4 linked regions of the Homo sapiens genome follow. The protein of the gene in region 4 purifies or fractionates together with the protein of the main gene of each other region. This does not show direct contact. Each region holds a gene or a part of one and is shown on either strand. Other genes may lie near its edges.

Region 1 (3,576 bases), on a different chromosome or scaffold from region 4:
CATTCCTGGCTTAATTCTTTTTATTTTTTGTAGAGACGGGGTCTCTCTATGTTGCCCAGGCTCATCTCCAATTCCTGAGCTCAAGCAATCCTCCCACCTCAGCCTCCTAAAGTGCTGGGATTACAAGGATGAGCTACCATGGCTGGCCAAATGAAACTCTCAAAAAGAAAAAAGAAAGTCATGGAAAGAAATGATAAAACTGAGCAGTGAACTGATAAAAGCAGGACACAGGTTATCTCTGCATGCACATAGCCTCAATTACTTAGGGACCAAATAACTTTTCTGGTTATTTGAATGGCAAATATCTACCATTCAAATTATATTTATAAACAGTCAAAAAATAATGGCCATAGCTATTCTGAAATTTTTTTTCTTTTTCTTTAGAGATAAGGTCTCCCTCTGTCATCCAGGCTGGAGTGCAATGACGTGATCATGGCTAATTGCAGCTACAACCTCCAGGGCTCAGACAGTCCTCCTGCCTCAGCCTCCTAGCTAGCTGGGACTACAAGTACACACCACCACCTCTGGATAATTTTACTTTTTTTATTTGAGACAGAGTTTCGCTCTGGTTGCCCAGGCTGGAGTGCAATGGCGCGATCTCAGCTCACTGCAACCTCTGCCTCCCAGGTTCAAGTGATTCTCCTGCCTCAGCCTCCCGAGTAGCTGGGGTTATAGGCGCCCACCACCACATCTGGGAATTTTTATGTATTTTCAGTAGAGACGGGGTTTCACCATGTTGGCTAGGCTGGTCTTGAACTCCTGACCTTAGGTGATCCACCCGCCTCAGGCTCCCAAAGTGCTGGGATTACAGGCGTGAGCTGCTGTGCTTAGTCTAATTTGTTTTAATTTTTTTTGTGGAGATAAGAGTCTCACTCTGTTGCCCAGGTTGGTCTTGAACTCCTGGGCAAGAGTTCTTTGGGGAAGGGCGTGGTGGCTCATGCCTGTAATCCCACACTTTGGGAGGCTGAGGTGGGTGGATCACTTGAGGTCAGGAGTTTGAGATCAGCTTGGCCAACACGGTGAAACCCTGTCAATACTAAAAATACAAAAACTAGCCAGGCGTGGTAGTGGGTGCCTGTAATCCCAGCTACTTGGGAGGCTGAGGCACGAGAATCTCTTGAACCTGAGACATGGAGCTTGCAGTGAGCTGAGATCGTGCCACTGCTCTCCAGCCCGGGTGACAGAGTGAGACTCTGTCTCAAAAAAATAAAAAATAAAAAATAAAAAACAGCATTCTTTGGGAGGCTAAGCGATCCTCCTGCTTCAGGCTCCCAAAGTGCTGAGATTACAGGCGTTGAGCCACTGCACCTGGCCTCAACTATTTTTTTAAATCATGTCTGATCTTAATTCTCCTAGGATACTTATCCCCAACTAACACAAGTGAGTGACGGATGGCCACTACATTTAGTAAAAAGAAAGTACACTCTGATTTTGGATTCTGGTACAATAAAGGTTTTAATATACATTTTAGAAGTTGGGCACGGTGATGTGTGCCCATAGTCAGCTACCTGGGAGGCGGAGGAGGGAGGATCACTTGAGTCGGGAGTTCCAGGCTGTAGTGTGCTATAACTGTGCCTGTTAATAGCCACTGCACTGGGCAACATAGCCAGATCTTGTATCTTTTTTTTTTTTTAAGATTTTTAAAGTATATACCTGCAATTTAGGAGAAAAATAAGAATATAAACCTCTTTTTAGCATGCGTATTTTTTTTTAACTAATTGTAATTTTATTGTTTTTCTTCCCCTCAATTTATTTTTACTTCAATAGGTTTTTGGGAAACAAGTGGTGTTTGGTTACACAGGTAAGTTCTTCAGTGGTAATTGCTGAGATTTTGGTGCACCCATCACCCGAGCAGTGTACACGGCACCCAATGTGTAGTCTTTTATCCCTCAACCCCCTCTCACCCCTCCCATCCCCAAAGTCCACTGTATCATTCTTATGCCTTTGCTTAGCTCCCGCTTATAAGTGAGAACATACAAGGTCTGGTTTTCCATTCCTGGGTTACTTCACTTAGAGTAATGGTCTCCAACTCCATCCAGGTTGCTGTGAATGCCATTATTTTGTTCCTTTTTATATATATTCCATGGTACATACATATATACCACAAAAAACTGTGTATTTCTTCACTCAAATTTCATCAGTATTGAGTTTCAGCATCTGTACCTATTTCATTATTTCTTTTTATGCTCATCAGTCTTTAATATCTTCAAGTTTTTTATTTTTACTGTTTTTGTTAGTAACAGGTTATTTCAAATTATCTTCCAAAGTTTTCACCCACTGACTTAAAATACAGTAGTTCTTAACTCTTCTTTCACTACAGAACAAATGGAAACAGCAGTTACCTCTATTTTAATGGTAACTTTTGGATTTATGCTGTCTTAATTCAATGACAAAATATTTTAATCTTGGAAATCTTTTATTTTTTTCAATACAAGGTAGGTAGGGCATAACTATTTTTTTTTTTTTTTTTTTTTTTTTTTTTTGTAGAAAGAGTCTTACTATGTTGCTTAGGCTGGTTTTGATCTCCTGGCCTGAAGCAATACTCCCACCTCTGCCTCTGTAATCTCAAAGTGCTGGGAGTACAGGCAAGAGTCACCATGCCCAGCCAAGGTATTATCTTTTTTTTTTTTTTTTGAGACAGAGTTTTGCTCTTGTCGCCCAGGCTGGAGTGCAATGGTGTGATCTTGGCTTACAGCAACCTCCGTCTCCCGGGTTCAAGCAATTCTCCTGCCTCAGCCTCCCGAGTAGCTGGGATTACAGGTGCCCGCCACCATGCCTGGCTAATTTTTGTATTTTTTTTTTTTTTTAGTAGAGATGGGGTTTCACCACGTTGGCCGGGCTGGTCTTTCACCTCAGGTGATCCGCCCACTTTGGCCTCCCAAGGTGCTGGGATTACAGGCGTGAGCCACAGTGCTCGGCCCAAGGTATTATCTTAATTAGGTATCTATACCTATTTAGAATCCTCATCTTCTCATAATGCTTCTTGCATTATTTTTGTCTTCATACTGGTTACTGCTGCGTAATGTAATTTCACAATTCATTTAGGAAATTCTGAGACTTGAAATTGTCAAAAATTACATGTAATGATCTGAACAACAATATTACATTAAGTTAAAAAATGAAGACATAAACAGTAATAATGACACCTATCTTTCAGTGGGTTACCATCCATGCAGTTATGCTTCTCTGCAAAGAGACTGAGTAAACCCCAGATTTCTACTTGGGAAGCAAACAAGCCCATATCTCATCTTCCTTTCATGGAAGTTAAAACTAATATATGCACCATTAGTAGCTAGCAACCACTGAGGTGCAACAAATAAACATTTACTACTACCATTATAATGTACAAAATGGCTTTCTTAATTTTAAACTTACACATCACTTAAACCATTACTAAACAAATTGCAGTTAGGTTACTGACTTCACTAGTGCTCCAGTAACAAATCTACAATAAAACAAATTCAAATAGGCTGTTATCCAGACGTTCATATGAAATGCAAAATGGAAGTAAGTCACAAGAGGAATGACGTCTACGTAACATTACCTATGGTAAGGAGTGCTTGGTTCATCTATTTT
Region 2 (3,576 bases), on a different chromosome or scaffold from region 4:
TGGGTTCAAGCAATTCTCCTGGCTTACTCTCTCGAGTATCTGGGATTACAGGCATGCGCCACTATGCTTGGCTAATTTTTGTATGTTTAGTAGAGATGGGGTTTCACCATGTTGGCCAGGCTAGTCTCGAACTCCTGACCTCAAGTGATCTGCCCACCTCGGCTTCCCAAAGTGCTGGGATCACAGGCATGAGCCACTGTGCCTGGCCTAGTGCATTTCAAGTGCTCACCAGCCATAGGTGGCCGATGGTCCCCATGGTGAGCAGTACAAATAAAGCACATTTCCATCTTCCAGAAAGTCCTAATGGGTAGCACATGGCTCATGTTTTTTTTTTTTTTTATCATGTCCTTAGAAGGATCTGTGACCCAAAAAGTACTCAACTACTCCCCTAAAATTTTTGAATAAGTATCTTTTTCACTATGAAGTAATCTGTAAATAAGCTTTCAGTCAAGTCCCAAACCTTTCTCTTGGGCTAGGCACAGTGGCTCACGCCTGTAATCCCAGCACTTTGGGAGGCTGAGGCGGGCGTTCGAGACCAGCCTGACCAACATGGAGAAACCCCGTCTCTACTAAAAATACAAAATTAGCCGGGCGTGGTGGCACATGCCTGTAATCCCAGCTACTCAGGAGGCTGAGGCAGGAGAATCACTTGAACCTGGGAGGCGTAGGTTGTGGTGAGCCGAGATTGTGCCATTGCACTCCAGCCTGGGCAACAAGAGCAAAACTCTGTCTTAAAAAAAAAAAAAAAAAAAAAGCTTTCTCTTTTTGCCACCAGCCTCCCTAGCCACCACACAATTAGCAAAGGAAAAAAGGAAAAAGACAAAAATGATACACTCATCATCTCTCCACGCAGAAGCAAGCACTGCTAATATACTGATCATTCTCCCAAACTTTCCCCTGTGGGGATCTTTTCTCCCCTAAGCAATTAAGATCAAACTAGTAACAACAATCTCATTAAAATGCTCTTCCTTGACTGGGCCTGGTGGCTCACACTTGTAATCCCAAGACTTTGGGAGGCTGAGGTAGGAGGATCACTTGAGCCCAAGGGTTCGAGACCAGCCTGGCCAACATGGCGAAACCCCATCTCTACAAAGAATACAAAAATTAGCCAGGCATGGTGGTACATGCCTGTTCAGCTACTCGGGAGGCTGAGGTGGGAGGATCAGTTGAGCCTGGGAGGGTAAGGCTGCAGTGAGCCGTGATTGTGCCACTGCACTCCAGCCTGAGAGACCAACTGAGACTCTGCCTCAAATAAAAATTTAAAAAAATAAATAAAATAAAATGCTCTTCCTCTGTGCCCAGCACTATGCTAAACATTTCACACAAATCATCTCATCTTCATGACAATATCTGAGGTAGGAACTATTAATGCCCACATTTCACAAGCAAGGAAATAAAAGCTTGCACCAGAAATGCAGTGTTCTCAACATCAGCACTGTATTGCACTACTAGAAATGTTTGGAAATGTCCCTTCCACAGTGGCATTCACATTCCATCAAAATGCTCTGTGTTGAAACAATCTGAACTTGGAACAAGAGGGAATTTGAAGCTGCCTTCAAGTTCTCCCGATGGTAAATGACACCAAGATGAACATCTCTCTGCGCCTGTCTTTGCCTTTGCCAGAGCTGGACTGTGTCCTTGGCCACAGTGGGGTGATGGGGGCAGTACTCACCGCTGATGACCTCCTGCCGCTTCACCTGGCTCTTGGGCAGGCTGTGCAGGGTGTCTGGGGGGACGAGTTCCCGCCAGCCGGGAGGCTCTTCTGGTTCAAGCTCCAGTCCCGACCGCCCCGGCTCCCCCTCATCTCCAGGCTCGGGGCTGTGGACAGAGGCCTTGTTAGGGCCCCAGCTTGGGCCATCCCAAGAAGCAGCCTTCAGCCTCTTAGAGCGTTCAACCCCGGTCAGTGGCCTTGGCATTCGATGCCCGCAGGGTGGCCCGTGCAGCAGACCAGGTCTCTAGATCGGACCACACTAGAGTTCCCAGATCTCTAGAAGCATTCTACCCCCTCCTCCTCCAAGGTCTGTGACCACAGTTGGCCTCAATGACCTCGGTCTCCAACGCCCATTCCTCTGTGACTCTGACAACAATCCCTCCCTGATTCTCCAGGCTGCCTTAGTGGATGGGGGAAGGGAGAGGGTTGACATACGTGGCTCGTCGGGCAGGGCCAAGCACTGCCGTGGCGGAACTGGGGTCCATGTCCACGTCGCTCCGGGAGCGGCCCCCACCCCGGCCCTTAGCCCCGAGGCTGCCCCGGGAAGGCCGGCGGCGGTCACTCACCCGCAGGCTCTCTGAGCGCCCCAGACGCCCTGATAGCCTGGACCCCGAGGCCAAGGACAGAGTCAGGCAGATGCCGGGGACAGAGACAAGGAGAGACCAAGACAAGAACAGAGACGAAGAGAAACCAGGACAGGGACAGAGACGGGGAGAGACCAGGGCAGGGACAGAGGTGGGGAGAGGCCAGGGCAGGGACAGAAATTGGGGAGAGACGAGGACAGGGACAGAGACGGGGAGAGACCAGGACAGGGACAGAGACAGGGAGAGACCAGGACCGGGGCAAGGGTGACCAGGACAGGGATCAAACATGCAACAGAAGAGAGGAGAGAGTCAGAGGAGTGGTGGGATTTTAGGGGCACTGGGGTAGTGGGGGGTCTTGGGGGAGGGGGGATACTGAAATTTGATGGGGGAAGGGATGGGGAACCCAGGATGGAGCATAGGACTGACCCCCTCCCTTCCCTGAGGCAGGGGGATGGCAACAGAGGGGGTGTTATGGGGTGGGGAGGATTTCCATACTTAGCTCTTCAACTGGGAGGGTGATGTCCCCACCCACCCCTCACAGGGAGTGAAGGGGAGGGAGTGGCCATGGGGAGAGGGGAGGGGCTGGGAGAAATGGGGGAGGGGCTAGCCCTTCCCCCACCCAGGGCCCAGGCACCCACCTCTTCCACCTTCTGGGGAGAGAGGGGCACAGGGTCAGAGGTGGGCCCAGATGGAACCTGACCCACCTCCCCGCACCCACCAAAGGGTCCCCAAAGCAGCGGCACAAGGACGGGCAGGAGGCAGAGCCTGCCCCCCAGCTGTAAGGGGGACAGGGCCCCCAGGGCACAGAGCAGAGGGGTGGGGGGTTGAGGGACGGGCACCAGGAGGCAGGAGCGAGGCGGGGGGTGGGGGGCAGGGGGCAGGGGGGCTTGAAAGAGAAGGGGAGGAAGGGCTGAAAAAATGAAAAGTGGCAGGGAGATCGGAGGGGGATGGAAGGTGGGGAAAGAAAACCCAGGTGAGAGAGGAGTGGGGAGGAAAGAGAGGAGGGGGAAGGTGAGAGAGGAGGGGGGAGGTGAGAGAGGAAGAGGGAGGTGAGAGAAGAGAGGGGAGGTGAGAGAGGAGCGGGGAGGTGAGAGGAGGGGGTAGGTGAGAGAGGAGGGGGGAGGTGAGAGAGGATGGGGGAGGTGAGAGAGGAGAGGGGAGGTGAGAGAGGAGGGGGAAATAAAGGAGATGGAAGGAGTGGTGGAGAGGAAGGGAGGAGGAGAAGGATTAGTGAAAAAAGGAAGGAGAGGAAGGAGCAGAGGAAAAAGGAAGGATAAAAGG
Region 3 (4,049 bases), on a different chromosome or scaffold from region 4:
GCGTGAGCCACTGTGCCTGGCCACCTCTGGGCACTTCTTCATGGGGAAGGCACACACTTCTTCGTGTGTGCAGGCCTGTCTTGGAAGCTAGTGGAAAAACCGGGCACCCAGGGGACAGTGGCTACCACTGCTTTCCATCTCTAAGTCAAGGGCGGGCAGGAAAAGGAACTCCACAGATGTCCCTCAGCCCTATTCCCTCCACCTGCAGAGGCAAAGACCCCACTGGCTCGGACTTCACCAACCTGGAGCAGGGGAGAGAAGCTAAGTTCTGACCTTTGATCAGAAGATGGGGAAGCCACACTCAACACGTCACTGCCTTGGGAGGTGGATTTGGGGATGGTGGGTCCTGGGGAAAAACGGGCTTTTGGTGTGGAAATGACATCTTTCCTGTTTCCGACCTCTGCCTGCCTCATGCCAGGTGAGACACCTTCATGCCTGTTTCCATGATTGAGAACATGGGAGTACGCTTCTTTCCACCTACGTTCCTGGTGGATTTTCACTGGAGTTGGGCTGCACTGTGGAAAAGGGGTTGGGCAGCTCCTGTGGCACAGTGAGGGGGCATAGAAGCCCAAGGCAGTCGGTAAGAAATCACCAATTTATTGAATGAAAAACCCAACATCAACTCAGTCCCTCCCACCCCCATCTCCTCTCTCTGGCCCAGGAGACGCTCAGGACAGCAGGGCTGAGCCCTGGGAAGGGCTGGAGGAGAGCTTGGGGGAGGTATGGAGAATGAGAAAAACACTTTCAAAATGAAGTTCTGTGCAAAAACTTCTGGGAAGGAGTGAGAGGACAAGAGAAAAGCTCCAAAGGGGCTGTGGGGCGCAGATGGCCGGGCTGGGGGGTGCAGAGGGCTGGGCTGGGGCCCTGTGTCCTCAACCACTCCTGAGAACACGGACGGTCAGGAATGAGGGGCTCAGACCCCGGGTTGGTGAGAGGGAGGTGACAGGGAGGGAAGGAGCCTGCTGGAGGGAAACCTGGCTGGGAGGATGGGTCTGGGCCCAGGCTGGGGCCTAAGGAGGGGGAAGAACAGAGCAGGGAAAGGCAGAAAAACTGACACGGTGGGAGGAGGGAGATGAATGGGAGATGAAACAGAATGTCTGAGGGGCCACAGACAGCATGTATGGTGGTGGGGGTCTGCCTCCCATCTCTCCAAGTCCAGGCAGAGCTGTGCTGGGTGAGGGGCTGGGAGGCAGAGGCAGGAGCATCATTAACAAGGGTGGAAGCCACGAAGACAGCGACCAGTGCACAGGGTGTGTCACATGGTACAACCAAGAGACTTGGCGTGCAAAGAACCAAAGAAACACTCAGGACACACACGACATCTGCAGGGAACCTGGGGGTGGTGAGGAAGTCGTGCACGGGTGGTGGGGGGAGACTGGGAGGCCCCTCTGTCCTAGAAACGCTGTGTCACCATAGCAACAGGGTCCTGGAGGCAGGGGAGCTGCCTCCTGCCCCTGTGAGCTGTGAAGTAGGGGTCCTGTGGGCTCAGGGTGCCCCCTTACCCTCCCTTGAGAAGCTCTGGGGCAGGTGGAGAACCCCATAAGAGTTGAAAGTGGCCTTGGGTCCTGCTGGAGGCAGCAGAGTGAGTGGATCTGGCAGCTGCATCCTAGAGGACACCCTGGTGGCTGGAGGGGCTGGGGGAGGACTAGGCTCTCCTGCTGGGGACCAGGATTCCAGCTTTCTCATTTCCGAGAAGGAAACTGATACCACAAGGAAGAGTTTGGAAGTCGGGTGAAGGAAGGCCTGGGGGACTCAGTCCAGGGGACTATGGGCACCAGAAGGCAAAACCAACACGCCTTGGGCCTGGAGCAGGAGGGAGAAGGGGAAAAGCGGGAAGGAGGAGGGGCTGTGCAGGGGTGGGCTGGAGGGGAGGGGAGGGAAGGCGTCCCTGTGGCAGTGTCCTTCGGGACCTGGGCGAGTGAGAGGCAGACCCTGGTGCCAGGGAAGGGGTGCTGGGCCCGGGCCTGCTGGCCTCCCCCTGCCCGCAGGCGGTGAGGCTGGTGGCAGTGCCAGGAGGGAAAGTGGCTGGGAGACAGGGCCTCAGGTGGCCTTGCTGCCACTGAAGAGTCCCACTGGAAAGTGCTTGACATGGGTGGGCCACTGGGCTGCCAGCTGGAAGAACTTGATGTCACTCCACTCGACCCCATCGATGGACACTAGGGGTGACAGGAGAGGAGGGGTGACCAGACTGCTCAGGCCATCTCCCCAGGGCCCCTTGGGAAAGGCCATTGCCTGCCTCCCTCTCCAGTCCCTTTCTTGCCCTCCTCCCGGCCCTGCCTGCCCTCGCACCTCTCAGCATAGTCTGCTGCTGCTTGGCTGAGCAGATGAGGCGGCTGATGCCTTCAATGACCTGGCTCTTAGAATCCACCTCCTTTTCTCGGGGTTTCTTGCTCAGGAAGATGGTGGGAACTGGAAAGCAAGCAAGGCCACCTGTGTCCCAGCCCCTGGGGAAGCCGCCACCCCTCTCCTCCCCAGCCGACTGTCCCCTTCTTCCTGTGGCGAGGGGAGGTGATCTGCAAACCAACCCCTCCTCCCTGGCACTGGGCTGTGGGTCAGGATCTTCAGGTTCCTGACTCAGTCCCAGCACTGGGCTGGTGACTTTGGCTAAGGTCCCACTTCTCCCCCTGGGGCTCGATATCTTCGCCTGTTCAGTGAAGACCTTGGTCCAGATGGTCTCTGAAGTCCTTTCCAGCTGGAACGTTCTAGGCAGCCTGTGGGGCAGGGGCCTGCCTCCCTATCAGGCGCATGCTCTATGCAGGAGCCAGTGCAGCATGAGTTTGTCCTCACGCTGTCCTGGGGATGCCGGGGAGTGCTCCCTGTTCCACTCCCACTCCAGAAAGGAAGCAAGGGCAGGGAGGTCACTGCTGAGCAGGCAGCTTCCCCTTGCAAGTTTCTGTGCTGCAGGCCGTGGGTTTTGGCTGTGGGCCTGGCACAGCCCCATGCCTGACCCCCCAGGGGAACTCTGCAGAGGGGAGTCACACACAGAAATAGGCACAGCTGCTTTGCAGCACCCAAAGGAGGCGGGGTTGGGGTCATGCCAGTGCTGCAGGTGCACTACCAGTTGCGGGTCCCCAGCTGGCACCAACGGTGGCAGGCGCTGCCGCAGCACTGGCCCAGCCATGGGGGTTCCTGCCTCACTCCCACGCACAGGAGCCGGGCCAGCTCCAACTCCCCTCCAGCTCCTTAAGCTACCCCTGCTATCCAGAATGGACTGTATGCCCCTTAATCCTGAAAACACAACCACGTCCTTTTGCTCATGAGGCCTCTTTGGAGAGGCCTCCAGGGCTGGGTGCAAGTTCTCTACTCCTGCGTCACAGGGACCTGGAGCTGTGATATAGAGAGGCCTCTCCCTGTCTGCAGTCCATCCCGGACAGCAGTGGCCAGAAAGGCCCCCTTCATTACACAGTGGCAGCTGCCTCAGCCCCTAAAGTACTGGAGCTCAGCAGAGAGTGACCAAGCGACTCTCTGCAGCCTCGGTTTCCTGCATGACAGAAGGAATGGCCTTGTCCCTCGAGGGGAGGTGGGACTGCCCCCTCTGCACCCCATGCCAGACCATGGGATGCTTCTTCATCCCAAATATCCCAAAAGCAGATTTATTCCCAGGCCCTGAGAGACGAGACGGGAGGCCTGGTGGCCCATGGTCTTCCCCGGCCTTGGGGGTACTTACCTTTCTTGTTCTTTTCTTTGGTGACCACAGTCATGGCCATGGTGCCAGAAAGCTGGGCCTCCCCACTATGGGGCAGGCGGGACACCTGCACTGAGCGGAAGACACTCTTGAGGGTGTTCTTCGAGCTGGCGTCCCTCTTGTCGCCTTCCCTCCTCCGCTCCCCGGGGTGGCCCAGCCAGTAGTCCACCTGGAGGCCAATCACGTCCCCATATGGGCTATTAGGGCTCCTGAGGAAAGGGAACAAAGAGGAGAGGTCAGCTCTGCCTTCAGCTCCCAACTACATAGGCCTGATGGGGTAGGGGCCATGCCAGTCCCCGGGAGGGCAGGCTGAGGAAGGCTGCAGCTCTGTTCCCTCCAGCCACACAGAGCAGCTCATGTAGGA
Region 4 (4,470 bases):
TGTGTGTGATGCCAGGGAGGGGCAGTGTTCATTTTTCCACATAGTGCACTCTGCCAACATCATGAGGACACTGTCCACCCCTCCCCGACCCCCGGACACTTTTCCCAGTCCCCGAGTCCCCTGGGTTCCTGCTGAGGTGTCCCTGTCTTGGTGCTGTTAGGTCAGGCCTCCCCCCACACTCTCACTGTGGGTTTGCAGCACTCAGGATCTGGTAGGAAAGCGTCTCTCCCAGCTCTTTTTCAAAATGAATTGAATCACAATGTTGACTTTTTTCTTCCATATACATTTTAGAATTTGTCGGGCACGGTAGCTCATGCCTATAATCCCAGCTTTTAGGAAGGCAGAGGTGGGAGGACAGCTTGAGCCTAGGAGTTTGAGACTTGCCTGGGCAATATAGCAAGACCCTGTTCGCCAAAAAAGGAAAAAGAAAAAGCCGGGCACGGTGGCTCACTCCTGTAATCCCAGCACTTTGGGAGGCAGAGGCAGGTGGATCATGAGGTCAAGAGATCAAGACCATCCTGGCCAACATGGTGAAACCCCGTCTCTTCTAAAAATATAAAAATTAGCTGGGTGTGGTGGCATGTGCCTGTAGTCCTACCTACTCAGGAGGCTGAGGCGGGAGAATCGCTTGAGCCCGGGACGCGGAGTTTGCAGTGAGCACAGATCGCGCCACTGCACTCCAGCCTAGCGACAGAGCGAGACTCTGTCTCAGAAAAAAAAGGAAAAAAAATTAAATTTTAGAATTTAATGTGTCTCAAAAAATCAAATGGTGGCTGGGTGCGGTGGCTCACCCCTGTAATTCCGGCATTTTGGGAGGCTGAGGTGGGCGAATCACCTGAGGTCAGGAGTTTGGGACCAGCCCGGCAACATGGCAAAACCCCATCTCTACTAAAAATACAAAAATCAGCTGGGTGTGGTGGCGGGTGCCTGTAATCCCAGCTACTAGGGAGGGTGAGGCAGGAGAATCGCTTGAACCTGGGAGGTGGTGGCTGCAGTGAGCTGAGATTGCGCCATTGCACTCCAGCCTGGGTGACAGAGAATGACTCCTTAAAAAAAAAAAAAATCAAATGGCATTTTGATTAGGATTGTGCTGGATTTAGCATACCTTTCCTCATCACTTCCACATTTTTTGTATGTTTGTAAAAATGTCTGTTAAAGAACAGATGGCTGGGTATTAATTTGGAGCCTTTTAAAACTTGAGACAGGGTCTCCCTCTGTCACCCAGGCTGGAGTGGGTACAATCATGGCTCACTGCAGCCTCGCCCACATTGGACAGTACGGTTCTAGAGTCCTGGTTCCTCAAGTAGACGGTTCTAGAGTCTAGAGTCCCGGAGGCAGAAGGGACCTTGGTGACCACATGATGTGGCCCTCATTCTGCAGGAGGAGAAATCTGAGACCCTGGGAGGTGACGATGCCCTGGTAGCATTAAATCCAGACTTCGGGTGTCTGTCAATGTACATTTTATATTAAAAAAGCCAAAATAACAATGGGGTGAGAACAGGAGGCCACTATACCAGTGGCCAAGAGTTCAGATCCTTGGAGGCCGTCTTTGGAGAGGCTCAATGGGACTCGTATTCTGGCAGCAGCACAGCACCGTGTGGGACACAGGACACCCTCCCCACACCTGAGCTTTCACCCACAGGCAAGGGATGTGGCGAGAACTGACGGGCACACGTGAAAACAGTCAGCCCTGCCCGGCGCTCTTTGAAGGAGAGCTCTAAGGAACACAAGCACACAGGGCTGAGTCAGCTTTTACCCAGCTTTTTTAACTTACCTAATTTTTAAAAAATTGAAAATGGCTGGGTTAAAAGACTAAAAAACCTCGGTTGTTGCAGGTCAAGACTGCCTGAACCCTGCACACCAGGACTAGGGCCAGCTAGGCCAGCCCCCGAATGCCACTCGGACAGCACGTGAATGCCTGTAAAGCACTCTCAGGCCCTGTGTTTCACACGACTCAGGTAGGGACTGTGACTGCCTTCTGAGAGAAGGAAACAGGGATTTCTAGCGAATGAACGCAACGTGTCTTATGTTCTCTCTGTGGCTACAATAACTGTCAACAATCACCCAGGAGGACAGTGTGGCAAGATTTAATTGCAACGGCATCTGAAAATGGTGTGTGACGTCGCGCGCGCCAGCTATCGTCAGTGCCTTTATTGCCATTGGGTTTGTGACTGTTGATATAGTGACGACCTCAGGAGCAACAGGTGGGTTAAAAACCCGTGGCTGGGCAGTTCTTCCGAGGAGAGGGACCACATGAGGAGCCAAGAAGGACTCAGAACCTGACGAACGTGGCATCGATCTGCCGCACGGAGGGGAGGGCGAGCATGACCTTCCGCCGGTACTGGGGGTCCTTCTGCAAGGGGTTCCGCTCCAGGTACACTGTCTCCAGGCTCCTGGCTCCCTTCAGCTCGTCGAGGTCGCTCCAGCTCTCAAGGAGATTGTCGTTCATCTGGGGACACACACAGCAGAAAAGCCTTTAGAACCAAACAGCCCAGCCCTCGACTCTGGTGGGGTCCACTAGCCACCCTCCTCCTTCCCACTCAGAAGATGGCGAGCAGGTGTGGGTCTTCCCTGGCACCTCATGGGACCTTCCATGGCCTCTTGGTGCATCCTGGCCACCTTCAGCTGCATCCCAAGTACAAGTTACCTGTCCATAGCCAACCCTGGGCCAGTCACTATGACGGGGCCAAGTCCACATTCAGGTCAGCAGAGGAAGGACAAAGCAGTTCTGGCCACCTGCCTGCTACACTTGTCCATAGGCAAGTGTCAAAGCAGGGTGGGCTGCACTTTCTACAAACCAGTTCTCAGCCATCATTCCCAAGGCTGCACTCTGCGCCATCACTGTGACACAGCAGACAGAGGCCGCTCTACTTAAAACTCTCAACTCTTCTGTAAATTACCTCTATGGCTCTCTCCACAAGGAAGTCCCAGCTGCTGCTTTCACCCAATACCAAGTGCAGGGACACAAATCGTGAGCAGGTGGGATTCAGAGGTCTGAGTTGCAGGCTACATTTTACCATCTTGGCCCTGCCATGCCCAGTTGGAGGGACCTGCCTTTGGCAGGAAGAGTTCTCTTGCATTTTTTTTTTTTTTGAGACAGAGTCTCGCTCTGTCGCCCAGGCTGGAGTGCAGTGGTGCCATCTCCAGAACAAGGGGAGCCAGTCCAGCTTCAAACCCTGTTGGTCTGACCCTCCCTTTCAAACACCCTGTGTGTAGAAATCACATGTTCAGAGCTGCCCGGCCTCAGGGCCTGCCAGGCAAACCGCGGTGGCAAGAGCACGGGCACTGCTCCTGAAGAGGCAGCTGGACTTGACTGTGAACCTACAATGGGCACAGGCAGGGGCACTCGTTATAGGGTGACAGACTTCGACTCCTTTTACAGGGAAGTTAGGAAGGGAACTGTCCATGTGGAACGGAAGGCAAGCAGGGGCGTTCTACTCTGGGGCCCACACTGCCCACTGCCCTGCCCACAGCTGTGGTCCGACTGGGGGGTCCCTGCATGGACTTCTGGACCTCTGCTCTGCACAGCTCCCCTTCTCTCTGGGGCCCTGTCTGGCACACTCTAGCTGCCAGAGATGTTGATCTCTGCCTCTTCCACTCAGAAGTACTGTGTTCTGCTTGGGAAACATCCCAGGTAAGGAGTGGGGTGATCACGGGGCTCGCGCTGGAACTCCCTCCTCAGAGCCTGCAGGTGCGTGCTGCCTGCTGTCCACTGCCTGAATAGAGTTGTTTCATATTTTTCTATCTGTCTGTGGCAGGAGGGCTAGTTTTGCACCAGGTCCACTGTCACAGCCAGGCTGTCTTTAGTAACTTACCGTGTGTCAGGGGCTTCCCAGAGAGGAATATAACGTGCATCTCACAGGTTTGCCTGTTTGAGGAACCCTATTTTCTTTTTTTTGAGAGGGAGTCTCGCTCTGTCGCCCAGGCTGGAGTGCAATGGGGCAATCTCTGCTCACTGCAACTTCCGCCTCCTGGGTTCAAGCGATTCTCCCACCTCAGCCTCCCAAGTAGCTGGGATTACAGGCACTCGCCATCATGCTCGGCTAATTTTTGTATTTTTGTAGAGATGGGGTTTCACCACGTTGGCCAGCCTGGTCTTGAACTCCTGACCTCAAGTGATCCACCCGCCTCAGCCTCCCAAAGTGCTGGGATTACAGGCGTGAGCCACTGCGCCTGGCCTGAGGGACCCTATTTTCACAGAACCTTTTGTGGGACTAGTGCGTACCAGCCTTGGGAAACCAAGAATTCCAAATCCTAGAGCTTAGCCCTTGAAGAGGGACTGACACCTGCTGGGAGGAGCTGCACCACCAGGGCTGGTGCCCTGCTGCTGCTGTCCCGACCAGTGCCTCCATGTGGACGGGACGTGAGCGTACCTTCTTAAATGCTACTCTGTTACTACACTCGCACCGCCCCGCTGGTTGTGTGGCCAGTGCAGAGCCTGCAACACTAGAATTACAGGGGAAGCCATCC

The links. Proteins that work in one complex are often made in the same cells at the same time.
Region 1: the proteins of PPP1R7 (region 4) and PPP1R2 fractionate together in Homo sapiens (co-fractionation; one large-scale study listed by BioGRID). This does not show direct contact.
Region 2: the proteins of PPP1R7 (region 4) and ARHGEF1 fractionate together in Homo sapiens (co-fractionation; one large-scale study listed by BioGRID). This does not show direct contact.
Region 3: the proteins of PPP1R7 (region 4) and PACS1 purify together in Homo sapiens (affinity purification with mass spectrometry; one large-scale study listed by BioGRID and IntAct). This does not show direct contact.

What each region holds. Positions count from the first base shown.
Region 1 is NC_000003.12:195,526,250-195,529,825, forward strand, and holds part of PPP1R2 (protein phosphatase inhibitor 2), read right to left. Parts: coding exon 3,545-3,576; intron 1,654-3,544; coding exon of another isoform or gene 1,509-1,653; intron 1-1,508. UniProt on the Homo sapiens protein: Inhibitor of protein-phosphatase 1.
Region 2 is NC_000019.10:41,896,684-41,900,259, reverse strand, and holds part of ARHGEF1 (rho guanine nucleotide exchange factor 1), read right to left. Parts: intron 2,946-3,576; coding exon of another isoform or gene 2,934-2,945; intron 2,315-2,933; coding exon of another isoform or gene 2,147-2,314; intron 1,819-2,146; coding exon 1,673-1,818; intron 1-1,672. UniProt on the Homo sapiens protein: Seems to play a role in the regulation of RhoA GTPase by guanine nucleotide-binding alpha-12 (GNA12) and alpha-13 (GNA13) subunits. Acts as a GTPase-activating protein (GAP) for GNA12 and GNA13, and as guanine nucleotide exchange factor (GEF) for RhoA GTPase.
Region 3 is NC_000011.10:66,241,272-66,245,320, reverse strand, and holds the end of PACS1 (phosphofurin acidic cluster sorting protein 1), read right to left. Parts: intron 3,895-4,049; coding exon 3,668-3,894; intron 2,410-3,667; coding exon 2,290-2,409; intron 2,157-2,289; coding exon 2,041-2,156; 3' UTR 577-2,040; downstream 1-576. Other genes in the region: uncharacterized protein LOC124902694, read left to right, coding at 209-272. UniProt on the Homo sapiens protein: Coat protein that is involved in the localization of trans-Golgi network (TGN) membrane proteins that contain acidic cluster sorting motifs.
Region 4 is NC_000002.12:241,180,626-241,185,095, reverse strand, and holds the end of PPP1R7 (protein phosphatase 1 regulatory subunit 7), read right to left. Parts: intron 2,450-4,470; coding exon 2,273-2,449; 3' UTR 1,444-2,272; downstream 1-1,443. UniProt on the Homo sapiens protein: Regulatory subunit of protein phosphatase 1.